Linked DNA regions of Homo sapiens. Changing the gene in region 7 together with the main gene of any one other region gives a genetic interaction. Each region holds a gene or a part of one and is shown on either strand. Other genes may lie near its edges.

What was found.
Region 1: of ATG10 (region 7) and WDR74, changing one suppresses a phenotype caused by changing the other (phenotypic suppression), as found in Homo sapiens cells (one large-scale study listed by BioGRID).
Region 2: of ATG10 (region 7) and PDPK1, changing one suppresses a phenotype caused by changing the other (phenotypic suppression), as found in Homo sapiens cells (one large-scale study listed by BioGRID).
Region 3: of ATG10 (region 7) and OGDH, changing one enhances a phenotype caused by changing the other (phenotypic enhancement), as found in Homo sapiens cells (one large-scale study listed by BioGRID).
Region 4: of ATG10 (region 7) and PFAS, changing one suppresses a phenotype caused by changing the other (phenotypic suppression), as found in Homo sapiens cells (one large-scale study listed by BioGRID).
Region 5: of ATG10 (region 7) and IARS1, changing one suppresses a phenotype caused by changing the other (phenotypic suppression), as found in Homo sapiens cells (one large-scale study listed by BioGRID).
Region 6: of ATG10 (region 7) and DHX37, changing one suppresses a phenotype caused by changing the other (phenotypic suppression), as found in Homo sapiens cells (one large-scale study listed by BioGRID).

What each region holds. Positions count from the first base shown.
Region 1 is NC_000011.10:62,836,791-62,840,853, forward strand, and holds the start of WDR74 (WD repeat-containing protein 74), read right to left. Parts: upstream 2,801-4,063; 5' UTR 2,781-2,800; coding exon 2,717-2,780; intron 2,639-2,716; coding exon 2,532-2,638; intron 2,446-2,531; coding exon 2,324-2,445; intron 1,310-2,323; exon of another isoform or gene 1,188-1,309; intron 630-1,187; exon of another isoform or gene 161-629; intron 1-160. UniProt on the Homo sapiens protein: Regulatory protein of the MTREX-exosome complex involved in the synthesis of the 60S ribosomal subunit. Participates in an early cleavage of the pre-rRNA processing pathway in cooperation with NVL.
Region 2 is NC_000016.10:2,544,521-2,548,020, reverse strand, and holds part of PDPK1 (3-phosphoinositide-dependent protein kinase 1), read right to left. Parts: intron 1,194-3,500; exon of another isoform or gene 1-1,193. UniProt on the Homo sapiens protein: Serine/threonine kinase which acts as a master kinase, phosphorylating and activating a subgroup of the AGC family of protein kinases.
Region 3 is NC_000007.14:44,672,627-44,676,126, reverse strand, and holds part of OGDH (2-oxoglutarate dehydrogenase complex component E1 isoform 1 precursor), read right to left. Parts: intron 2,341-3,500; coding exon 2,186-2,340; intron 1,717-2,185; coding exon 1,570-1,716; intron 950-1,569; coding exon 859-949; intron 158-858; coding exon 1-157. UniProt on the Homo sapiens protein: 2-oxoglutarate dehydrogenase (E1o) component of the 2-oxoglutarate dehydrogenase complex (OGDHC). Participates in the first step, rate limiting for the overall conversion of 2-oxoglutarate to succinyl-CoA and CO(2) catalyzed by the whole OGDHC.
Region 4 is NC_000017.11:8,255,789-8,259,288, forward strand, and holds part of PFAS (phosphoribosylformylglycinamidine synthase), read left to right. Parts: intron 1-16; coding exon 17-122; intron 123-478; coding exon 479-619; intron 620-735; coding exon 736-860; intron 861-1,046; coding exon 1,047-1,175; intron 1,176-2,018; coding exon 2,019-2,150; intron 2,151-2,282; coding exon 2,283-2,411; intron 2,412-3,500. UniProt on the Homo sapiens protein: Phosphoribosylformylglycinamidine synthase involved in the purines biosynthetic pathway. Catalyzes the ATP-dependent conversion of formylglycinamide ribonucleotide (FGAR) and glutamine to yield formylglycinamidine ribonucleotide (FGAM) and glutamate.
Region 5 is NC_000009.12:92,283,698-92,287,197, forward strand, and holds part of IARS1 (isoleucine--tRNA ligase, cytoplasmic), read right to left. Parts: intron 2,922-3,500; coding exon 2,839-2,921; intron 2,143-2,838; coding exon 2,025-2,142; intron 1-2,024. UniProt on the Homo sapiens protein: Catalyzes the specific attachment of an amino acid to its cognate tRNA in a 2 step reaction: the amino acid (AA) is first activated by ATP to form AA-AMP and then transferred to the acceptor end of the tRNA.
Region 6 is NC_000012.12:124,982,632-124,986,131, forward strand, and holds part of DHX37 (probable ATP-dependent RNA helicase DHX37), read right to left. Parts: coding exon 3,465-3,500; intron 1-3,464. UniProt on the Homo sapiens protein: ATP-binding RNA helicase that plays a role in maturation of the small ribosomal subunit in ribosome biogenesis. Required for the release of the U3 snoRNP from pre-ribosomal particles.
Region 7 is NC_000005.10:81,978,523-81,982,022, forward strand, and holds part of ATG10 (ubiquitin-like-conjugating enzyme ATG10), read left to right. Parts: exon of another isoform or gene 1-327; intron 328-977; exon of another isoform or gene 978-1,156; intron 1,157-2,385; exon of another isoform or gene 2,386-2,895; intron 2,896-3,500. UniProt on the Homo sapiens protein: E2-like enzyme involved in autophagy. Acts as an E2-like enzyme that catalyzes the conjugation of ATG12 to ATG5. ATG12 conjugation to ATG5 is required for autophagy. Likely serves as an ATG5-recognition molecule. Not involved in ATG12 conjugation to ATG3.

The DNA.
Region 1 (4,063 bases), on a different chromosome or scaffold from region 7:
GGCCAGGCACAGTGGCTCACGCCTATAATCCCAGCACTTTGGGAGGCCAAGGCAGGCAGATCACCTGAGGTCAGGAGTTCCAGACCAGCCTGGCCAACATATAGTGAAATCTTGTCTCTACTAAAAAATACAAAAATTAGCTGGGTGTGGTGGTACATGCCTGTAGTCCTAGCTACTTGGGAAGTTGAGGCAGGAGAATCGCCTGAACCAGGGAGGTGGAGGTTGCAGTGAGCCGAGATCATGCCACTGCACTTCAGCCTCAGTGACAGAGCAAGACTCCGTCTCTCAGAAAAACAAAAACAATAAATGAATAACTCACCAACACCAATAAAAGTGCACATCTCTCAACCTAGCACTTAAAGCCCTTTACATTTAATCCCAACCTAATATAGTGTTCATCTTGTATTAAAATGCTTCCTTGGCCGGGTGCAGTGGTTCACGCCTGTAATCCCAGCATTTTGGGAGGCTGAGGTGGGCGGATTGCCTGAGGTCAGGAGTTCCAGACTAGCCTGGCCAACATAGTGAAACCCTGTCTCTAATAAAAATACAAAAAAAACTTAGCTGGGCGTGGTGGCGGATGCCTGTAATCCCAGCTACTCAGGAGGCTGAGGCAAGAGAATCGCTTGAGCCTGGGAGGCAGAAGTTGCAGTGAGCCGAGACTGTGCCACTGCACTCCAGCCTGGGCAACAGAGTGAGACTCCGTATATAAAAAAAAAACAAAAAACAAAAAAAAAAAAACGCTTCCTTGTTATCAACTTCCAAATCAAATGCTATTTATCCTATTTATGTACCCTGTAGCATGCCTCCAGTCCTTGGCCTCTCCCAGGCAGTACCCTCTTTCTAGAATACCCTTATCCCCTTCTCCACCAGTCAAAATTCTACCCATCCCTCAAGAACCAGTTCAGACATCCAGTCCCCCCCACAGGCTTTCCAGACCTCACCTGTCAGAATTACCACCACCAAACCTATGCAGCCTGCTTCACAGCCCTCTTTCATCATCTTTGGAAGAAAGCAAGGCCAGTCATCCAACCACTTAGCACCTTCCTAATCTTTGCTTTCAGAGCTACATCACCTTGTTGGTGGTTGAGCTCAAGTTGAGCCCAGGAGTTTGAGACTGGCCTGGGCACACAGTGAGACCCCATCTCTATAAAAAACTTAAAAATTTAGCTGGGCAGGGTGACACCTGCCTGTGGTCCCAGGTACTCAGGAGGTTGAGGCGGGAGGATCGTTTGACCCCGGGAGGTTGAGGCTGTAGTGAGCCATGAATGCACCACTGCACTCAAGCCTAGGTGACACAGTGAGGCTCTGTCTCAAAAAATATAAATGAATTAATAATGAATTAATGAATGCATGCTTAAAACTTTTTTTGTTGTTTTTTTTGAGATGGAGTCTTGCTCTGTTTCACAGACTGGAGTGCACTGGTGCGATCTCTGCTCACTGCAACCTCTGCGGGACGGATTCAAGCGATTCTCCAGCCTCGGCCTCCCAAGTAGCTGGGATTACAGGCATGAGCCACCACACCCGGATAATTTTTGTATTTTTTTAGTAGAGAAGGGGTTTTACCGTGCTGGCCAGGCTGGTCTTGAACTCCTGACCTCAAGTGATCCACCTATCTCGGCCTTCCAAAGTGCTGGGATGACAGGCATGAGCCACCACACCCAGCCTTGCTTAAAACTATTAAATGACAAGCAGGCACAGTGGCTCACGCCTGTAATCCCAGCACTTTGGGAGTCCGAGGCAGGTGGATCACCTGAGGTCAGGAGTTCGAGACCAGCCTAGCCAATACGGTGAAACCCCGTCTCTACTAAAGATACAAAAATAGCCGCGCGTGGTGGCAGACGCCTGTAATCCCAGGTACTTGGGAGGCTGAGGCAGGAGTATCGCTTGAACCCGGGAGGCGGAGGTTGCAGTGAGCCGAGATCGCGCCACTGCACTCCAGCCTGGGCAACAAGAGCGAAAACTCCGTCTCCAAAAAAAAAAAAAACAAAAAACAAACACACACACACACAAAACTATTAAATGACTTGCCCATGGTTACTTAGAGGATTATAATGGAGTCAGGTGAAAAACCTTAGAGGATGAGAACTTTTTGAAGGCAGAAATTTTACCGGCAGCCCCTGTACTTCTCCCAGTGCCTGGAATTCAGTAGGTGTTCAATAAATGTGTGTTACAGGTATGAACTACATAAGGCAGAAACCCAGGTCCCTGTCACCCATTCAAAGCCGTGTCACTAAGAGTTTGCCTGTCGCCATCATTCCAGTATCCTCAGGGAGCATCAACGCTCTCCCTTCGGCCCTGAGTTTAGCGAGGGGATTGGTCTTACCCGTCGGCCTGGGCGAGGCCACGGAACATGCCCTCCCCGCCCGGGCAGTGTCTCTGACCCTGGAATATGCCATCCTCGGTGCTGAAGTGCTTCACCGTCCTGTCCGCGCAGCCCACCAGCATCTGCGGCAAAGAAGGGCAAGATGGCGAGGAGAGCGAGGCTGCTGCGCCCCAGGCCCCCAGCTCCGGCCCGACCAGGGGCCACTCACCTGGGTCTCGCCGCCGGTGCCCCAACACAGGGCGCTCACTGCCTCCTCGCGCCGCGGCTGTCCTCCGGCCGTGAAGTTCGCCGCCTGTTTTCGCTGAAGATTTACCCCTGAGAGACGAAGGCGTCAGTCACGCCAGGGGCGCGAGTGCACCCCTGCACTTCCCGACGCCCGAGCCTGCCACCCACCTTTCAAGATCCCAGTCTCGGTGCCGACCCACACATGGTTCCAGCGTGCAGCAGCAGCCGCCATGACAAAGCCTGGAGGCAGACAGTTCACACTTCCGGCGCAGCGTGTGCGTCACCAGCGGGCGTCGAGTCCGATGCAGCGCAGTGTAGTTGCTGGAAGTTTGAAGAGCCGAAACAGTAAAGCTTCCATGCTTGTTTTGCTTTACGAAAATGAAACCAGGAGGTGCTTGTTTATGTAGATCGGAAGAATACATTGATCATTTTGCACTTGGGGGTGAAAAGCACCTTTCCTGGACTGCGTGGCCGGATCAAGCCAGCCCTAGTCTGTCTCCCGGCTCCATTATGTAATATGTGTTCTGGACTGTTAGACAAGAAACAACAAACGATTTAAGAAACGATTTAAGAAACACTTTAGAAACGATTCAAATCATTAATGATGTGTGGGGCTTCGTTCTGGAATATAAGTCACGAAAGAAAGATGGGAAAAGGAAACCGACGATTTTTTTTTTCTTTTGAGAGAACTTCGCCCTTGTTGCCCAGGCTGGAGTGCAATGGCGCGATCTCCTCTCACCTCAACCTCCGCCTCCCGGGTTCAAGCGATTCTTCTGCCTCAGCCTCCCAAGTAGCTGGGATTACAGCTGGTATTACTAAACCACCGCGCCCGGCCTCGTTTACTCTTCAAGAGGCGGACAGCGAGGCGCGGTGGCTCACGCCTGTAATCCCAGCACTTTGGGAGGCCGAGGCGGGCGGATCATGAGGTCAGGAGATCGAGACCATCTTGGCTAACACGGTGAATCCCCGTCTCTACTAAACATACAAAAACAAAACTAGCCGGGCGTGGTGGCGGGCGCCTGTAGTCCCAGCTACTCCGGAGGCTGAGGCAGGAGAATGGCGTGAACCCGGGAGGAGGAGCTTGCAGTGAGCCGAGATTGCGCCACTGCACTCCAGCCTGGGCGTCAGAGACTCCGTCTCAAAAAAAAAAAACAAAAACAACTAAAAGTACTCTGTGCTATGCTACATGAGAAACGCAGAGAAAGTCATCGCTCAGTAGAAATACAGTAATAGCGCATGCGTAAATAGGAGAGGGAAGTCGCTACTTTACCTAGAGATTAACACAGAAAAGCAACAAATTACCAGTTTACAAGTAAACCCTTTATCTAACGCGAAGATTTATTTATTTTTTGAGATGGAATCTTGCTCTGTCTCTCAGGCTAGAGCGCCCGCCACCAGGCCTGATTCACTTTTCTTTTGGTTTTTTAGTGAAGACGGGATTTTTCACACCATGTTAGTCAGGCTGGAATTACCCAATCCGCCCGCCCCAACCTCCCGAAGTGCTAGGATTTCACG
Region 2 (3,500 bases), on a different chromosome or scaffold from region 7:
CTCAGGCAACCCAGACCTCCCCGAGTCGCCACCCCAGCCAGGAGAGCTCCTCCCCTGCTAGTCCACGTTGGGGCCCAGACTCTGCCCGGCTCTCTGAAGCAGCCCCACAAAGGCCGGTCACCCTCTCCTGCTCAGACACTAACTACCCTCCCTCTATGGGCACCATCTGCAACGGCCGTGCTATTGACTGTTTCCCTTCTGCCCCTGGGGCTCAGAGAGGGACAGGAGCATCAGGTGGACCGTCCCCCTTCAAGCTGTAGAAGCCATCTTTTTCACACAACATTTCCTCAGGCCAGGAGCATGGGGCCCGTTCTGTTCATAACCACTTTTCCTAAACCAACCGGGGCCGTCCTCACCCTTTCTGCCCCAGGCACAAAGCTCAGCGCCAGCAGCATCTGCACAGGAGAGCTTGCTAAGATTTTTTTTTAAGCATCATTTTGAGCTTCCGACTTTTTACGGAATGAGAACGCAATGCGTTCACCAAGAAAATCTATATTCAGATGCACATTTTAAACTAGATATCTGATAATAACCAGGTACGTACATACAATCAAAAGACTGTAATTCTGACCGATGGAAAAAAGCCATGAAAGACAAATGCCAGCCTGCAGGAAGAACATGTGAGTTACCCATGGAAAAGCAGCCGGAAGCGCTCCGAGCATCTGAGCGTCTGAGCCCGTGCTCTGAAGGAGCTGTGTACTCCCTCAGCCTGGCGTCCAGAGTCAGGCCCAACTGGGAGAGAGAAACGCAGACGAACCTAGCGCTCGCCCTCAGGAAGGACCCCCTGATGAGGTCCACATGGGGGGAAATGAGCAGCCGTCAGCCTTCCTAGCTCGTAAGTTGGGAGCCTGCTCACTAACCTGCCTCCCCAGGGTCTGGCTGCTGCGGCTCTCCAGATCAAACCTTCCCAAGAACAGGGCTGAGCAAAGCCAGCGCTCCATTCTTCCAAAGACTGATCTGTCCCCATCCTTTCCCACAGGGGAAGTCCAAGCAGTGCTGTGTGCCAGCCAGCACTGGCACACGGTGGGTCTGAAGGTCAATTAGCCCCGCCCCCACCGAGGTCGGAGAGCTCTCACTCACTGAGCCCTGGGCCTGGGTGCACAGCGGGGACTCTGAGACAGGTGGGCTGCTGAGATCCTCACTGCTGGGCTCCCCAAGGACCATCAGTCACACAACCATCCTGCGGATATAGCTGCAGCTCTACAGGTGGCTGCACCCACCCACAGAGCACACGTCCCTTTTGCCGCCACAGGACACCTTAGAAGCTACAGCAAAGTCAAGGCCTAGGAAAAGCCTCATGGCACCTTGCCCAAGCAGGAAAGAGACCAGGAGAGTAGGGCCCCGCTGTCAGGAAGGAAAAGCAGCTTAAGGTTAGAAGGGCCACTAAGGAAGGCCGGGCACGGTGGTTCACACCTGTAATCCCAGCACTTTGGGAGGCCAAGGCAGATGGCTTGAGGTCAGGAGTTCAAGACCAGCCTGGCCAACATGGTGAAACCCCATCTCTACTAAAAATACACAAATTAGCCCAGCATGGTGGCAGGAGCCTGTAATCCCAGCTACTCATGAGGCTGAGGCAGGAGAATCGCTTGAACCGGGGAGGTGGAGATTGCAGTGAGCCGAGATCGCGCCACTGCACTCCAGACTGGGCGACAGAGCGAGACTCTGTCTCAAAGCACTTTGGGAGGCTGAGGTGGGTAGATCACGAGGTCAGGAGTTCAAGATTAGCCTAACCAAGATGGTGAAACCCCGTCTCTACTAAAAACACAAAAATTAGCCGGGCGCAGTGGTAGGCACTTGTAATCACAGCTACTCAGGAGGCTGAGGCAGGAGAATCGCTTGAACCCGGGTGGCAGAGGTTGCAGTGAGCCGAGATCGCGCCACTGCACTCCAGCCTGGGTGACAGAGTGAGACTCCATCTTGAAAAAAAAAGTTACCTTTAGCTCATCATCTCCTAAGCAGTATTCTTGCCATAAATACTTAGCCTGAACCTAATCTAACAAGGAAACAATGAGACAAATCCAGATTGTGAATCCTGTATTTATATAAAATACGAGACAACTACCCTCATATTTTAAGAAATGCTGGCCAGGTTGCTGTAGCTCATGCCTGTATTCCCAGCATTTTGGGAGGAGCAGGTGGTAGGATCACTTTAACCCAGTCCAAGACCAGCCTGGGCAACAAAGCGAGACCCCATCTGTACAAAAAATTTTAAAAATTATAATTAGCCAGTGCTGGGCATGGTGGCTTACGCCTGTAATCTCACGCTTTGGGAGGCCAAGGCGGGTGAATCATGACATTAGGAGTTCGCGACCAGCCTAGCCAAGATGGTAAAACGCCGTCTCTACTGAAAATATAAAAATTAGCCGAGTGTGGCGGTGGGCGCCTGTAATCCTAGCTACTCATGAAGCTGAAGCAGGAGAATTGCTTGAACCCAGGAGGCGGAGGTTACAGTGAGCCGACATCACACCACTGCACTCCAGCCTGGGGAACAGAGCCAGACTCCGTCTCAAACAAAAAAAATTAGCCAGGTGTGGTGGCACAGGCCTATAGTCCCAGCTACTCAGGAGGCTAAGGCTGGAGGATGGCTTGAGCCCAAGGGAGTTCAAGGCTGCAGTGAGCTATGATCATGCCACTGCATTCTAGTTTGGGCAACAGAGCAAAACTCTGTCTCTAAAAAAAAAAAAGAGAGAGAAAGAAAGAAGAACAAGAAAGAGCTTTGAGGAGGACAGGTGACCACTGAGGAAGGCTGCACGTCACCTTTGCATTAGAAAATGCCACGTTACAATAAAATTCCACCTCTACTAAAAATGCAAAAATTAGCCACGACTGGTGGTACACACCTGTAAGTCCCAGCTACTTGGGAGGCAGAGGCAGGAGAATCACTTGAACCCAGAAGGCGGAGGTTGCAGTGAGCCAAGATCGCACTACTGCACTCCAGCCTGGGCAACAGCACGAGATTCCATCTCAAAAAAAAAAAAAAAATGCAATGTTAATGCTATCTCGGATGTGATGATGAAGAGGTTGTACAGGTGACAGCTTCTGAGCTCAGAAGGCATCTGGAGAAGGATTCTGGGGTGAAATGCTATCATGTGTGTGACTTACTTTCAAATAATAAAAATAATAGAAAAAAATTTTGGGCCAGGTGTGGTGGCTCATGCCTGTAAATCCCAGCACTTTGGGAGGCCGAGGTGGGCGGATCACGAGGTCAGGAGATCAATTCCATCCTAGCTAACAGGGTGAAACCCCGTCTCTACTAAAAATACAAAAAAATTAGCCGGGCATGGTGGCAGGCGCCTGTGGTCCCAGCTACTTGGGAGGCTGAGGCAGGAGAATGGTGTGAACCCAGGAGGCGGAGCTTGCAGTGAGCCGAGATCGCGCCACTGCACTCCAACTTGGGCGACAGAGCGAGACTCCGTCTCAAAAAAAAAAATTTGGGGGAGGTGAGGGGGTAATGTATACAAGCAAATATGGAAAAGGTTAACAACTGGTAGAATCCAGGT
Region 3 (3,500 bases), on a different chromosome or scaffold from region 7:
AGTAAAACTGTTCGGCTTTGGTCTTGCCCATCACCACGGGGTCAGCGGCCTCAAGGTGGGAAGGGTTGGCCACCAAGGACAAGGTAATGTTCCTGTCGGTGACACGATTGATCCTGCGGTGATACATGCCCAGGTGGTACTTCACATCTCCGGAGCCCTGATGGGGTAAACAGTGAATTTGCACCCTGGCCAAGGAGATGCTCAGTCTCCAAAAGAGCCCTTTTATACGGGAATTTTTTTTTTTTTTTTGAGATGGAGTTTCGCTCTTGTTGCCCAGGTTGGAGTGCAATGGCGCGATCTCGGCTCACTGCAACCTCCACTTTCTGGGTTCAAGCGATTCTCCTGCCTCAGCCTCCCGAGTAGCTGGGATTACAGGCATGCGCCACCACGCCCGGCTAATTTTGTATTTTTAGTAGAGATGGGGTTTCTCCATGTTGGTCAGGCTGGTCTCAAACTCTCGACCTCACGTGATCCGCCTGCCTCAGCCTCCCAAAGTGTTGGGGTTACGGATGTGAGCCACCATGCCCAGCCTTATATGGGATTTCTACTCCCAGGAACCCAACGCAGAAGGATATGGAGGCCTTTTCCCAGGATCATTCCCATCCAGGGCATAAGGAGAACGTCCCTCAGCCAGAGGGGACACACCCCTGCACTCAGAGTGGGGCTGCTGGACCTCTGACCAGGAGGTGGGCCACTGGCCACCTTTGTCCCAACACTAAAATTCTCCCAACAAGGAAGGCAAATCACAAATGGTACAGAAGAACCAACCCCCCGTAAGTCATTCTAAGAAAGAAGTGGAGCCAGGGGTCTTGTGTAAGTTGGGGCTATGCTGGATGTGTCTCTATGCAGGTGCCTCACCTCATCAGCTGCCTCCAGCTTTGAATCGAATTGACAGAAGATCTGTTCCAGCTCCTTCCTGATGACATTTGCAAGCACGTTCAGCCGCCCTCTGGAACGTATGGGCGAGTAGGGTGAGCAGAGCCTGAGGTCATGGTTTCCAGATGGCAGATGAGGGTGTTACAATCCCCCCCTCCCCCTCCCCCCAGGACACGGCACCTCCTCGGTTTGCAGCCCAAGGATAGCTGTAAACTGGAGCTAATGTGGGAACCGAGCCTCTCCGTGCTGGGCAATCAAGGCCACAGTGGGCAGCAGAAAGATAGAAGATGCAGCAATGCCATGGGCCTGAGGCTTCCTTACCCTTCTCCCTCCCCACACCTTCCCTATTTTCACAGTCTTGGCCTCCCCTTCAATGTCAGGAAGCAGCCTTCCCTCCAGGTTAGACCCCAACAAGGGAACTTGGGTTTAATTTTCATAAAGATGCACTGTAAGGCCAAATGCCAGTCTGAAACTACATGTGGCTTTGGAGGTGACCATGACTTTGCAGTCCTCCAGAGGCAGGCAATGTGAGAATCCCCTGCAAAGCAATACACCCTCAGGTACCAGATGAGCCCAGACTCACAACTGGCACTCAAGGAGGAAACAGCTGCTCTCTCAGTGCCTTTACCTGGTGCCTCCTACACAGCCCACAGGGATGGTGAGAAACCAGGTTGGGCGCGCCCTTGGCTGTACCTGTGTGGCATGCCCATGATCACGTAGTCCACGCCATTCTCACTAGACTTGTCAATGATGGTCTTGAGGGCAGGGATCAGTACCTCGCAGCCTTCTAGACCAAAGCGCTTCTCAGAGGACCACTTCCGCTGTAGGAACTCCTCAAACCTGGACAGGGAACCAAGCCACCTTGAAGGGCAATGTCACTCTTCCTGACCAAAAAGAGGGGATTCTGGCCAGGCATGGAGGCTCACACCTGTAATCCCAGCACCTTGGGAGGCCGAGGTGGGCAGATCAGCTGAGGTCAGGAGTTCGAGACCAGCCTGGCCAACACGGTGAAACCTCATCTCTACTAAAAATATAAAAATTAGCCAGCCGTGGTGGTGTGCCTCTGTAATCCCTGCTACTCAGGAGGCTGAGGCAAGAGAATCACTTGAATTCAGGAGGCGGAGGTTGCTCTGAAGGCTGACTCTACTTGTCTGGTGTCTCTTCACACATGTGCAGATGGAGCTTTGCCTGTACCACCCCAAACCCCCTCTCACCTCGGCCAACAGGCTGCACACAGGCCCGATCAACACAGACAGGGTCACTGCTTCCCTGGGAATGTCTGCCCCATGGCCCAGGGCCAGACCCATACCTGGTGGACCGCACAAGCCTGGCCAGCAGGGTCCGTTTCTCCTCATTTGTGAACTGCATGATCCCAGGGGTCTCAAACTTCTGCCGGATCCACTGGCACTGCTCCAGGTCATTGATGAACATGAACTCCACCCCAATATGCTGGCAGTAGGCCATCTATTCCATACAGAAACACACAGTCAAGGGGATTTCTAACCAGGCCTGGCTGAATGAAGACTGCCGACTGCCCATTCAGCCAGAAGGAGGGGATAAGCAGGAGGCTTGTTCTGAAATGTACTCCAATCAAGTGTGACTGAGGATGGGATGGAGTGGGTGCCAGGCAGAAGCCCTCTTCATAGGGTCATGAAGTGCTTCCTTCAGGGACCTGGGTCACTTGTACACAGAGAACCTCCTAGCCTTCCAAGGGCAGGCCAAGGGACAACCCCAGTTCTACTCTGTTACCTTTGTGGCAAGAAGCACAGACCGCAACAGTTGTGGAACTGGGTCCTTCCCCAGGGAAGACAGGCTGTCATCAAGGTCAGACCTGTACCAGCACCCATGACAGGAAATGCCCATAGGGTGTCATAGGCTCAATGGCTGTTAAAGATTTGCAGGTTTTAAAAATTATTTATTTATTTATTTATTTTTTTGAGGCAGGGTCTCTGTCATCGAGGCGGGAGTGCAGTAGCGCTATCAGAGCCCGTTGCAGCCTCAACCTCTTGAGCTCAAGTGATCTTCTTGCCTCATGTTTTGAATTTTTTGGAGAGATGAGGTCTCACTATGTTACCCAGGCTGGTCTTGAACTCCTGGGCTCAAATGATCCTTCTGCCTCAGGAAGCAAGATTGCCCATAAGACAAAAGTCAGGATCCTGAGCAGATCAAGATGTCCTGTACCACGTTCACACTGCACAGCTGGGTGAGGAAGCAGCATCCAGATCTGCAGAGCTCGGCAGGGAGGAATTCAGGAAGAGGAGAGGTGCCAGGAGCGAGAGGAGGCACCAGGCTCTTAGAAGTCCATCTCGGGGCCAGGCGCGGTGGCTCACGCCTGTAATCCCAGCACTTTGGGAGGCTGAGGCAGGCAGATCACAAGGTCAGGAGTTTGAGACCAGCCTGACCAATATGGTGAAACCCCGTCTCTACTAAAAATACAAAAATTAGCCAGGTATGGTGGCATGTGCCTGTTATCCCAGCCACTCAGGAGGCTGACGCAGGAGAATCGCTTGAACCCAGGAGGCGGAGGTTGCAGTGAGCCAAGATCATGCCACTGCACTCCAGCCTGGGCGATAGAGTGAGACTCCATCTCAAAAAAAAAAAAAAAACAAAAAACAAAAAGAAAT
Region 4 (3,500 bases), on a different chromosome or scaffold from region 7:
TGGATTTGTCTCCTAGGTCTGGCTTTAGACTCTTGGGACCTAGACTTCTACACCAAGCGCTTCCAGGAGCTACAGCGGAACCCGAGCACTGTGGAGGCCTTTGACTTGGCGCAGTCCAATAGGTGAGGAGAAATGGGGTTGTTCCCATACCTGAGCCCATGGGTGTTGGGAGAGACCACAGGGGCTCACCTTCATGTTCCTCCCTTGGCTTAGGGGCCTCCCTGAGTCTCTGAGGGCCTGGGCTCCCGTCATCCATCAAGGAGTCTACATTCAAATCTTGGTTTTATCTTCACTTTGGCTCTGGATAGTCCAAAATGACAGAATACTTGAAGATTATGACTTTTTGGAATATATTTTGATCTGTCATCTAAGTATGAATTTGGCTGTAACTCTGCTGTTAAATGCTGGTGAGAAGACATGGCATTAAGAAATGACCCCGTTTCCACCTGCCTTCCCCTCCCTGCATCGCCCCCTGCAGCGAGCACAGCCGACACTGGTTCTTCAAGGGCCAGCTCCACGTGGATGGGCAGAAGCTGGTGCACTCACTGTTTGAGTCCATCATGAGCACCCAGGAATCCTCGAACCCCAACAACGTCCTCAAATTCTGTGATAACAGCAGGTGCTGTGCCCTAGACTGGGTTGGCGTCAGGACCCGGGGAGGGGAGGCCCCAGGCCCTGGTTGGGTTAGTGTAGGTCCCAGAAAGGAAGCAAGGTCCATGACGGGTATGTCCACAGTGCAATCCAGGGAAAGGAAGTCCGATTCCTACGGCCTGAGGACCCCACACGGCCAAGCCGCTTCCAGCAACAGCAAGGGCTGAGACATGTTGTCTTCACAGCAGAGACTCACAACTTTCCCACAGGTGAGCTGGGTTCCCTGGAGAAATAGGTGAGATCACAGAATAGGGTAGGGCAAAGGTCCCAGGCCCCTGGAGTGGGCCTGGGGAAAATAATCAGGGAAATTGGTTGTCCTTATTTTCAGTGGGGGTGGTCAGAGATGGGGGTTTGTCTCTGAGGCACCCAGACCTCTCCCCACTCTCTCTTTGCAGGAGTATGCCCCTTTAGTGGTGCAACCACTGGCACAGGGGGCCGGATTCGAGATGTCCAGTGCACAGGCCGCGGGGCCCACGTGGTGGCTGGCACTGCCGGCTATTGCTTTGGAAATCTGCATATTCCAGGTTCCATCTCCTTCCTCTCTATCCACCTTCCCTTCCAGATTCCTTGTCCTGGCAGGCAGCAAACTTCTATCTGTTAGGTCCATAGGGTTATCCTGTGTGCCTTTTCTCAGGAGGAAGGGCTCTAGGATAGCTGGCCTTTCACTAACTATGGTCATAAGTGTAGACCTGGGGAGATGAGGTGGCCAGACTGCTTTTGCAGGTCTACGATTTTCTTTAAAAACTAGCCTTCATTCAGCCAGAAAGCATGATATTGGGTTGGTCTTATGATCAGTACCTGCCCCTCAAATCTGGTTTCTTAGCCTGAGAAACTTGGCTGGGCGTGGTGGCTCACGCCTGTAATCCCAGCACTTTGGGAGGCTGAGGTGGGCGGATCACAAGGTCAGGAGATCAAAACCATCCTGGCTAACACGGTGAAACCCCGTCTCTACTAAAAATACAAAAAATTAGCTGGGCGTGGTGGCGGGCGCCTATAGTCCCAGCTACTCAGGAGGCTGAGGCGAGAGAATGGCGTGAACCCGGGAGGCGGAGCTTTCAGTGAGCCAAGATCACGCCACTGCACGCTAGCCTGGGTGATAGAGCGAGACTCCATCTCAAAAAAAAAAACAGAAAGCCTGTGTAACTCTGATTGCGAGATTCAGAGGGAAGGCTGGTGTGGGTGGTGGAAAGAAGACCAGTGCCTCACTGCAGGCTCTAGGGCTTCCTAAAGCAGGACTTCCTGAAGTGGAACATTGCAACCATGCAGGTGGTCCTTGGTGGCCTTGACTCTTCCTGAAGGATGCAGGCTGCTCCGGCCTGTCTTCACAGTTCATTCAGTTCATCCAGTTCTCTCTCCTTCCCTCCCAGGTTACAATCTGCCCTGGGAGGATCCAAGCTTCCAGTATCCTGGGAATTTTGCCCGGCCCCTGGAGGTTGCCATTGAAGCCAGTAATGGAGCTTCTGACTATGGCAACAAGTTTGGGGAACCAGTGCTGGCTGGTGAGGCTGGGGTGTGGAGGGATGACAAACACCCAGAGGGGCTTGTGGGTGGGGTGTGCGACCCAGGGGCTGTGCTATTGGGCGAGCACTGGGGGAACTGAGTGACAGGTCCCTCTGATGTTCACACTCCAGGCTTCGCCCGCTCCTTGGGCCTCCAGCTCCCAGACGGCCAGCGGCGTGAGTGGATCAAGCCCATCATGTTTAGTGGGGGCATTGGGTCCATGGAAGCTGACCACATAAGCAAGGAGGCCCCAGAGCCAGGTAAGAGCCTGCCACCTTTCTCTGGATCCAGCCAGCTTTCTCCCCAGCACAGGATGGCTACAGGGAGGGAACTTAGGGAACACTTCAGTGGTTAGTTTTTAATATGTTGGCTTATCTTATGTGTCACATAATGATGGACAACTCATTCTGAGAAATGTGGCTATTAGGTAATTTCATTATTGTGCCCACTTCATAGACTGTACATACACAAACCTAGATGGCATAGCCTGCTACACGATCCACACAGCCTCTTACTGGCAATATTATCCAGGAATTTTGTACACTTGGGAGCCATGATGAACAAAACAGCATGAGAATAAAATAAGCACAAGAGAAAATAATGCAATCAAGACGTGGTGGGCCAGGCAGGGTGGCTCGCACCTGTAATCTCAGCACTTTGGGAGACTGAGACAGGTGGATCACCTGAGATCAGGAGTTCAAGACCAGCCTGACCAACATGCTGAAACCCTGTTGCTACTAAAAACACAAAAATTAGCCAGGCATCTGCCGGGCATGGTGGCTCATGCCTGTAATCCCAACACTTTGGGAGGCTGAGGTGGGCAGATCACGAGGTCAGGAGATCGAGACCATCCTGGCTAACACGGTGAAACCCCGTCTCTACTAAAAAAATAAAAAAATTAGCCAGGTGTGGTGGCGGGCACCTGTAGTCCCAGCTACTCGGAGGCTGAGGCAGGAGAATGACGTGAACCCAGGAGGTGGAGCTTGCAGTGAGCTGAGATCCCACCACTGCACTCCAGCCTGGGCGACAGATGGAGACTCCATCTCAAAAAAAAAAAAAAAAAAATTACCCAGGCGTCATGGTGCATGCCTATAGTCCCAGCCTCCTGAGGCACAAGAACCACTTGAAGCTGGGAGGTGGAGGTTGCAGTGAGTGGAGATCGCACCACTGCGATCGCACCACTGTCAAAAAAAAAAAAAAAGACGTGGTAAATATGAGATAATATGAAGCTACTGTCAATGTAACATGGCATACCGTTTTTAGGTAAACTTTTTTTTCTCTTTTTTGTTAATTATTATTATTTTTAATCTGCATTTTCTTTCTCAAGTCAGATTTTTTTTCTCTTTTTA
Region 5 (3,500 bases), on a different chromosome or scaffold from region 7:
TATAACCAACTGAAACGTGTACAAGACCTAAAAGACAACAGTCACCATGTGTTTAAGTCTTGGTAGATCCTGATTTAAAAAAATAAATAAATAAAAATAAAATATAACCCCTTGGGAAATGATTAAACCATTAGAAATATGAACTGATGATGTTCAGGAATTACATAATTTGAGAATATTAAAATAAAAACTATTAAAGGTGGCTAGGTGCAGTGGCTGACACCTGTAATCCCAGCACTTTGGGAGGCCAAGGCGGGTGGACTGCTTGAGCCCAAGAGTTCAAGACCAGCCCAGGCAACATGGTGAAACCACTCCTATAGAAACACATAAATTAGCCAGGTATGGTGGTATGTTCCTGTAGTCCCAGCTACTCAGGGGGCTGAAAGGGGAGATCACTTGAGCCCGGGAGGTCAAGGCTGTGGTTAGCCGAGATCGTGCCACTGCACTCTAGCCTGGGTGACATAGCGAGATCCTATCTCAAAAACAACAACAACAACAAAAAGGTAACTGCTGATGACTTTTTAAGGTGTGACAACGAATGCTAACATGGCAATGTTTAAAGAAGATAAAGATTATTTATGAAAGATCTATACTGGATTATTTCTTGATGAAATAATATGATATCTGGAATTTGTTTCAGAATTGGAAGGAAAGTGGGAAAGAATATGTGTATGAATGAGGCAAGATTAGCCAGTCATTGGTGCTGGGGGCCTTAATGGGCCTACAGAAATTAATTATACCATTCTGTTTACTTTTGCATGTCCCTGAAACTGTCCACATTCAAGTGTTTTAAAAAACAACCAAACAGGCCGGGCGCAATGGCTCACAACTGTAATTCCAACACTTTGGGAGGCCAAGGTGGGTGGATCGCAAGGTCAGGAGTTCAAGACCAGCCTGGCCAAAATGGTGAAACCCTGTCTCTACTAAAAATGCGTGGTGGTGGGCACCTGTAAACCCAGCTACTCCAGAGGCTGAGGCAAAGAACTGCTTGAATCGGGTAGGTGGAGGTTGCAGGGAGCCAAGATCGCGCCACTGCACTCTAGCCTGGGCGACAGAGCAAGACTCTGACTCAAACAAACAAACAAACAAAAACCAAATATAGCAATATATTAAGATTTGACAAAGGTAAGCCTTGGAAACCTTGTGTTTACCATATCATTCTCTACATTGTTAAGTGCTTAAAATATTTTACTAAAAAAATACAAACATGAGCACAGAGAGGTGGTAAGGAGATAATAGAAATCATCATACCTGCCTTACAAGGATTTACAAAGATCAATCAAACAGGATATGTGAAAGCATTCTATAAATAAAACGTGCTTTGAAAGGCAAATTTTACTAATGTAATTTTCAAACCTAGGCCATGAAACAAGAATTCCAAACAAGTCAACATCCTTTAAAAACAGAGGGTCAGATAAACTCTCAAAACTGAAAACAACTCAGTATACACACGAGAAGAGATGGTTCACATTTCAGAAGACTTACTAGTATATAATATCTGTCTAGATATGGTATAACAATACACTCTGTAAACATCAAACATGTCTAAACACCTCAATCATAGCAACAACAACAACTGATTCTATCTCATCAGAGGAAAAATAATACCATTTGGCATCTCAAATTAATTTTTTTCCAAATACCGTTAACAAATAAATGATATCATGAGGTCCCAGATAAGGCATAAAATTACTCAACCCTTAAGAAACGATGACTACAGGAAGTATGTCAAAGCTGGACTTGTTAACCCAACAGAGAGGCACAAAAATATGGTCAAAACAAGCAAAACCTATCACATTAAGACACATCATAAATCCAATGTGGAAAAAAAATCCCTCATCTTAACAGAGCCTTAGTATACTAACTGGCAATATTTCCAGCACTCAGTAAGAAGTGGTCAAAGTGGTGGATGTCGTGGGCAACATTCCACACTGGGTCTACTTGGGAATACCTACTGTGATCATAACTACTCAGCTTCCACCTACAAAACTCAATGCTGAATAATGTCTCTACATTTCACGTACCTTATAATTCTGGTGTGACTCGAAGTTGGAAAGTGGAGTGTTACATGCCGTAGAGAAGGGCATGACTTTCACACCTCTATAAACAAGGCCTTTATCATAGAGTTGTTTGAAGACCCACCTGGTAAGAGATGGAGTTTCACAATTACAGAACAAAATTCTATTTCTGAAAATGCAAACATTTATGCCATTTTCTTTTTAGAGTTTCTGTCTGCCAAATAAGTGAAAAAACAATGTCTTTCATTGGGAGACTGGCTGGTAAATTATAACAGATCAATATAGTAAGACATCAGGCAGACATTAAAATGCTAATATCTACTGATATCGAATGATATTTAACACATAATGTTAAGAAAAGCAACTGGCAGGCTGGGCGCAGTGGCTCACGTCTGTAATCGTAGCACTTTGAGAGATCAAGGTGGATGGATCACCTAGGTCAGAAGTTCGAGACCACCCTGGCCAACAAGGTGAAACCCCATCTCTACTAAAAAGACAAAAATTAGCCAAGCATGGTGGCGGGCGCCTGTAATCCCAGCTACTTGGGAGGCTGAAGCAAGAGAATCGCTTGAACCTGAGAGGCGGAGGTTGCAGTGGGCCAAGACTGTGCCACTGCCCTCCAGCCTGGGCAACTGAGCGAGACTCAGTCTCAAAAAAATAAAAATAAAAGTTCTACATTCAAAAACAAACCTGTTCCCAAAGATTTTCAGAGAAATAACGATGGACTCAAAAATAAACTGATTCATGCTAGTGCATTTTTCCAATTATCAATACAACAGAATAGAATATTTACCATATTTACAATTTTAAATAAACCTACCAGACTGATTCCATGAATTGTGGATACAGAGTTTTATAGTCATTGTCAAAGTCAATCCATCGGCCAAGTCTGCTAACAGTAGACTTTAAAATATTAATATTAGAACAGTATTAGACAATGATATTTATAATTGTACATCAATGTGTGTTTATTTCTGTTGTCATCACAAATGAAAATTTTGGGAAAACAGAATAATCAATGGTACAAGTAAATCTATACTGCCAACAACATATTATGTAAGGTTAAGAACCAGTTTTCTCGGCATTCATCCTACATGCACAAAATGTTATTTACAAGTATAAATATTCACTTATAAAAGTCTACCAAAACCACCACTTGGCAAATATCACAGGCATAATTATTACTGGCAAAAACCATCCATGGATGTTAAAATTAATAAGTGAATGTATGACAAAAAAAAGAATATTTGGAAAGAATCTCCCCACAAGATACTTATTAATTACAAAGGAAAAACTACAACTTTACAAAGCAGAAAGCTGACAGCACTTTAACCAAGTGAACAAAGTTATCACCATCAATGTGACATAGCCGCAACACATGCCACCTGATATAATGCATTGAGAAGGGCATAGCATCACTTCTGTGGCATTGTCACCAAAAATGCATAACCTAAATTAAATCAGGAAACCTCACACATTGAG
Region 6 (3,500 bases), on a different chromosome or scaffold from region 7:
GGAAACGAGTGTATTATGCATTTGCCATCACGACCCTCTCTTAAGAAGGGAAGTGAGACTGTAATAAAATTTCAGCATCATTAACACCTGGAGTCTTTAAAATCGGCGGTCAAATTGCAATTCTACTGGTGCATGGTGTTCTTCCATCAACAGACACAGCAAGCTGGCTTTTTTAACCCCTTTTACAGAATCTGGGGTTGTATAAATGAGGTTCTCTGCAGCAGGGTATCACAGTAGAAGATTATGGCCCACCAGATGTCCATCAACAGGAGATGAATAAAGCACAGTTCAGTCATGTACAGCAGTGCTCCCTAGCTGCTCTGAGGAAGGAGGCGGCTTTGTGTGTCTGATGTGAATTGGTCCCCGAGCTACCCTGAGCAATGCTGTGTGCAGGGGGTGTACCCAGTTGGCTTCTTTTAGTTGGGTGAGGGTTTCGTGAGTTTTTACTTTATTGTTCTTGTAACTGTACATATAGGTTTTATACACACTTCTTTTGAGACAGAGTGTCGCTCTGTCACCCAGGCTGGAGTGCAGTGGTGCGATCTTGGCTCACTGCAAGCTCTGCCTCCTGGGTTCACGCCATTCTCCTGCCTCAGCCTCTCCAAGTAGCTGGGACTACAGGCGCCCGCCACCATGCCTGGCTAATTTTTTGTATTTTTAGTAGAGACGGGGTTTCACCGTGGTCTCGATCTCCTGACCTCATGATCTGCCCGCCTCGGCCTCCCAAAGTTCTGGGATTACAAGCGTGAGCCACCGCGCCCAGCCTACACACTTCTATGTGTGTATTACACACACACACACACACACACACACAGAACAAGGTATAGCACAGCGGGAAAGCACCCTAAATAGGATTTAAAAAGGACACACTGACCAGGCACAGTGGCTCACGCCTGCAATCTCAGCACTTTAGGAGGCCGAGGCGGGTGGATCACCTGAGGTCAGGAGTTCAAGACCAACCTAACCAACATGGTGAAACCATGTCTCTACTAAAAATACAAAAATTAGCCGGGCATGGTGGCGCATGCTTGTGGTACCAGCTACCCGGGAGGCTGAGGCAGGACAATGGCTTGAACCTGGGAGGCAGAGGTTGCAGTGAGCTGAGATCATACCACTGCACTCCAGCCTGGGCAACAGAGCAAGACCTTGTCTCCAAAAAAAAAAAAAAAAAGAACACGCTCACAGGTGAGTAAGTCTTCCCCCTACCAAGGCTCTGGGGACTGCCCATCCACGGCTGCTGGAGAGAGACCCTCAAGCCTCCTGATGTGAAGACACAGCTCCCACGTGCAGTGGCCTCACCAAAAGTCAAACTTGATTCTCATGAAGGCTCCAGGTCAGGGTTCCTCAATCTCAGCACTATTGACATTTAGGGCCAAATAAGTTTTTGTTTTTCTGTGCATTATAGGCTGTTAACAGCATCCCATGGCTCCACCCGCCAGATGCCAGCAGCACTCCCAAGTTGTCACAGCCCAAAATGTCTCAAGACACTGCCAAATGTCCCTGGGGCAGCGGGGGGCGGCGCGCAAAACTGTTCCGGATGACAGTCACTGCTACAGATCCAAATACTAATGTACAAAAAGCTCAGATGGCAGAGGAGCATGTTTAAAATAAAATTTTAAGGCTGGGCGCAGTGGCTCACGCCTATAATCCCTGCACTCGGGGAGGCCGAGGCAGGTGGGTCACTTCAGGTTGGGAGTTCAAGACCAGCCTGACCAACATGGAGAAACCCTGTCTCTATTAAAAATAACAAAGTTAGCCGGACGTGGTGGTGCATGCCTGTAATCCCAGCTACTCGGGAGGCTGAGGCAGGAGAATCACTTGAACCCGGGAGGTGGAGGTTGCGGTGCGCCGAGATCATGCCATTGCACTCCAGCCTGGGCAACAAGAGCAAAACTCCATCTCAAAAAATAATAAAATAAAATAAAAATTTAAAAATCCAGAAGGTAGGAAACTGTAAGACAAACAACAAATAAACTACAATGGGAAAAAAAAACAAGAAAAGGGTGAGGAGTATCCATGAAACAACAGGAAATTTAACCACTTGCTAGATGTTTGATATTAAAATAAAAGATTAGGTGTGCTAATGGTATTCTGGTCATTTTTAAAAGTCTCTACTTATAGAGATACAAATTGAAATATTTATGGATATAATGCTATGTATAGTGGGTTAAATGGCAGCCTCCCTCAAAGACGTGTTCGTATCCCAGAACTTGCGAACGTGACCCTATTTGGAAAAAGGTTTTGTAGATGTAATTACGTAATTACGTGAAGGATCTCAAGATGAGATGATCCTGAGTATCTGAGCGCGACCTAAATCCAATGAGAAGCGCCCTTCGAAGAGACACACGGAGGAAAGGCCGAGGGAAGAGGGAGGCAGAGATTGGAGTGACGCAGCCACAAGCCAAGGGAACGCCTGGAGCCGCCAGGAGCAGGAAGAGGCCAGGAATGACCCTCCCCTGAGCCCAGTGAGGAGCACCGCCCTGCCAATACCTTGATCTCGGACTTCTGGCCTCCTAAGCTGGGAAGGAACAAATTTCTATTGTCCTAAGCCCCTCAGTTTGTGGTCATTTGTATGACATCCCCAGGAAACTAGTACAGATTCACTGTATGTGGGATTTGCTTCAAAATGACCCAGAGGTGGGAAAGTGACCAGCAGTGGAGATAATCCAAGATTGACCAGGGGCTGATCAATGTTGGAGCTGGCGATGGGCACATGGGAGTTCATCATACTGTTCTCTTTACTCTTGCAAATGTTTGAATTTCCCTTGCAAATGTTTGAATTTCCCATGACAAACTTTTTTCCTCTATGAAAAAATTAAGGTTGGCTGGGCATGGTGGTTCACGCCTGTAATCCCAGCACTTTGGGAGGCCGAGGCGGGCGGATCACGAGGTCAGGATATCAAGATCATCCTGGCTAACATGATGAAACCCCGCCTCTACTAAAAATACAAAAAAAAAAAAAAAAAATAGCCTGACGTGGTGGCACGCGCCTGTAATCCCAGCTACACAGGAGGCTGAGGCAGGAGAATCACTTGATACCAGGAGAACCCAAGATCATTTCACTGCACTCCAGCCTGGGCAACAGAGCAAGACTCCATCTCAAAAAAAAAAAATTTTTTTAAGGTTTGGTAGAGCCAGAAAAGATGTCGGGGGTGGGGGAACAAAACAAAAAAGAAAAAAAAATTAAATTTAAATTAAAAAAAAAAAAAGAAGAAAAAACAAGGAAAAAAGTTTGACATTCTCCGGAACAGTTCAGTTCAGTTCCTCTGCCATAGTAGCTGCATTTCAAGTGCTCAACAGCAATATGTGGTTAGTGGCTACCGCACTGGACCATGCACTGGAATTTTCCTCATTCCAGAAAGTTCTATTAGTTGCACCACAGAGACACCCTCAGGAGGAGAGAGACCCCCCATCTCTCTCTATGCTGGAGAGCCACTTGCAGACCCTGCCCGAGTGGGGTGTACCTGGCTCTTTTTCTCCTTCTGTTCTAAGATTTTCTG
Region 7 (3,500 bases):
ATCAGCTCAAATTGTCATCAGTGGTGGAACATTTTTTCTTATGTGCTTGCAGAGTTTTATTAAAAAATTATCTTTTGATAAAAGTAATGATACTGGTATCAGAAAGATTGGATGTCATATAGATCTGTGGTTTTTTTTGTTGTTGTTTGTTTGTTTTAGAGACAGGATCTTGCTGTCTCCCAGGCTAAAGGGCAGTGTCACGGTCATAGCTCACTGCAACCTTGAATTCCTAGCCTCAAGTGATCCTCCTACCTCGGCCTTGCAAAGTGTACATCAGTTTGTGTAAGAAAGGTCCAAGAAGTGAACAGGCCTGAAAGTTGAAGAAAGGTACTATAAATGAGAAGAGGTGTATAGAATAAGTCCATTCAAATTTTTGAATTTTTCTTTTTTTTTTTAAGATGGAGTCTCGCTTTGTCGCCCAGGCTGGAGTGCAGTGGCACAATCTTAGCTCACTGCAACTTTCGCCTCCTGGGTTTAAGTGATTCTCCTGCCTCAGCCTCTGGAGTAGCTGGGACTACAGGTGCACATCACTGCACCTGGCTAATTTTTGTATTTTTAGTAGAGAAGGGATTTTGCCATGTTTGCCAGGCTGGTCTTGAACTCCTGACCTCAGGTGATTCTCCTGTCTCAGCTTCCCAAAGTGCTGGGATTACAGGCGTGAGCCACGGTGCCTGGTCTGAATTTTTCTTTTATTCATTTACAACTTAAAAAAAAATGTTTACTGGCTGGGCACGGTGGCTCACACCTGTAATCCCAGCACTTCCAGAGGCCGAGATGGACGGATCACGAGGTCAGGAGATCGAGACCATCCTGGCTAACACGGTGAAACCCTGTCTCTACTAAAAAATACAAAAAATTAGCTGGGCGTGGTGGCGGGCCCCTGTAGTCCTAGCTACTCGGGAGGCTGAGGCAGGAGAATGGCGTGAACTCGGGAGGCGGAGCTTGCAGTGAGCCGAGATAGCACCGCTGCACTCCAGCCTGGGCAACAGAGCGACACTCCGTCTCAAAAAAAAAATGTTTACTGTTTGCCTATCTGTTATAGATGCTAAGATACGAAGTGTAAATCAAATCCCCAGACATTGCAGACATTGCTCTATCATCTGGCATTTGTTGCAGTGGGTGAAGATGGCAGAGGCTACCCTGATTTTTGCTAATTGTAGGTAAACCTTTTTTTTTTTTTTTTTGCCTGCATCTTTTTTTCTTTCTAGTCTTTAAATTAAGATATTCCTGTAGGCTATGTTTAGGCATAAGTTTCTTTCCAGCAGCTTTGTTTTTTTTAGAAACATGGTGAATTCTTTCAATTTATAGGTAAATATTTTAAATCTTTTTTTTTTTCCATCTTAGAACAGTTTTTCAGTTGTACATTTGCTTATGATTGTAGTTCAGAAATTCCAGTTATTTGTAGGTTGGACCTGTGTTCTTTGTCCTTCCATCAAACAATATGCATTATTTTCATCATGGTCTTTTTTCTTTTGTGTGTTTGGAGAGGATCTTATGTGCTTATACACTGAAACACGAATGTGATTTTTTTCCAGCTTCTATACATCTCTCTGTTGCCTTGAATGTAGAATTTTTATCTCTACTGTTACGTGTTTGAATTTCCTTCCAGTTTTTTCTTATCCAGTTTCCTTTTTCATCTCAGCTGTTTTTCCTTCCTCATCTCTTGCTTTTAGAGGTCTTTCCCTTTCTCTTTTTCTTTTTAAAATTGGGAACATAGAGTAGATAATTCCTCGGTTTGATTTCCATATTCCTAGTGTAAGTCCATTACAGGAGCAAGCTTTCCCTCTTCCTGTTTATGGTAGTTCCCCTCTTTTCTTATGCAAGAGCTTCTTAAAGGTCTTGTGTTGTTATTAATGTTTTTGGTTTACTTACCTTGACAAAAGAGGGGCATGTTGACTGGTCAGAGTGACCAAGTGTTCCTTCGTCTCTCTCACTACACTTGGAAGCTGGAGGAATCTTCCTCTTTATGTTAGCTTGGAAAGCAGATGAATGGGTACAACGAAATTTATGAAGGATAGATCATTTTCTATACTTAGGAGAGGTCTTCCTTTCCTAGTGTTGAATCTTTCGGTCCTGTAACTATAATGAGGGGAGTGTTTTTGTGTGATTTGAAATAATTTATAGTTTTTTTTTTTTTAGTTTTTTGGGGTGTTAGTGGTGAGACTGTACTATGCTGAGAGCTCATTCTGTTCCTGCAGCTACCTGTCGCTCGCTGCACAGTACTCAGTGCACCTCAGGGCTTTACCTTCCACATCTGGCCATGCACACTGCACTACTGGGAGAGAACTGCCTTGAAAGAGAATTACCAGTGGAGCTAGAAACCAGGAGGGGAGGGGCAACTCAGGATCTGTTTCTCTGAAGGGAATGGGAGAGAGTGAAATGACCCTCTTTCCCCTGACCTAGTGATAGAGAGGTCAGAGCAAGCCTCAGCTACCAACAGAGATTCCTCATTTCCAGCCAGGTACAGTGTTGCCTCTCATTTAAACTTTGATTTGGAATATGTATTCCAATGGGAAGGCAAGGAGGGAGAATTGAGCCTGCTGGTCATCTGTTGTTAGGACTGATACGACTTCTCTTCTGATGTGTCTCTGTGCTATTTTATTGGATTGCCCAGGGCCATGCCTTCTGTGTCCCACCCAGGCTGCCAAATGTCTTGAAATCCAGGTCTTTTACCAGCCCTGTCAAAGTGATTCATCTTTTGTCTAGGGATCATGCTAATCTTTTAGCATGATTCCCTTTGAAAGTATCCCAGGTGCTAATTAAAAGTAATTATTTTGGGTCTTCAGAATCAGGTTATTTTTCTGGCCAAGGCCTAGGATTCCACATTTGAATTTGCACTGTGGGTGCTTCTTTGCTGTCTAAAATTTGAGGACCACTGCCTAAGGACCTTGCTAGGTAAGTGATTAAATTAATCTGAATCAATTCAAGCCAAATTGCCATAAAAGTAGTGGGTTGATGTTTAACTCTCCTACCTGATAGTGCATGTTTTTTAAAAAAGAGTCTACACTTAGAGTTATAAATAATGTGGAATTGTTGCTAGGAGGGACAAGTATTCAGGAAATTGCCTACTTTATTAGTCAAAAATGATTTTTAATGTTTAAATGTATGCATCGCATGTTCTGTGGTAATCACATTTTTGTAAATGATCTTAAGTTCTGGGAAATTCAGTTATATTTCTTATAGTGTTTTAGTCCTATTATGACTTTGATGTACATTGATTTATAGATTCATCAAATCAACGTCTCCAACTAAAACAATAACAAAGAATTAGTTCTACACACATTAGATTAAAAATCACATTAAACAGTATGGAGAGTGGTAGTGAAAAAATTGTTTTCAATTAAAAAGGATCATTTAAACAATGATTATATACAGTGTTAGAATTCACTAAGGCTGCTTTTCTGGAAAGATATATTTGAACAGCAGCAGAATAAGCTTCTTCTATCCTTCTAGTCTAAGGGCTAACTTACAGTTTGGAAAGACTACCCTCACTTGGAAAA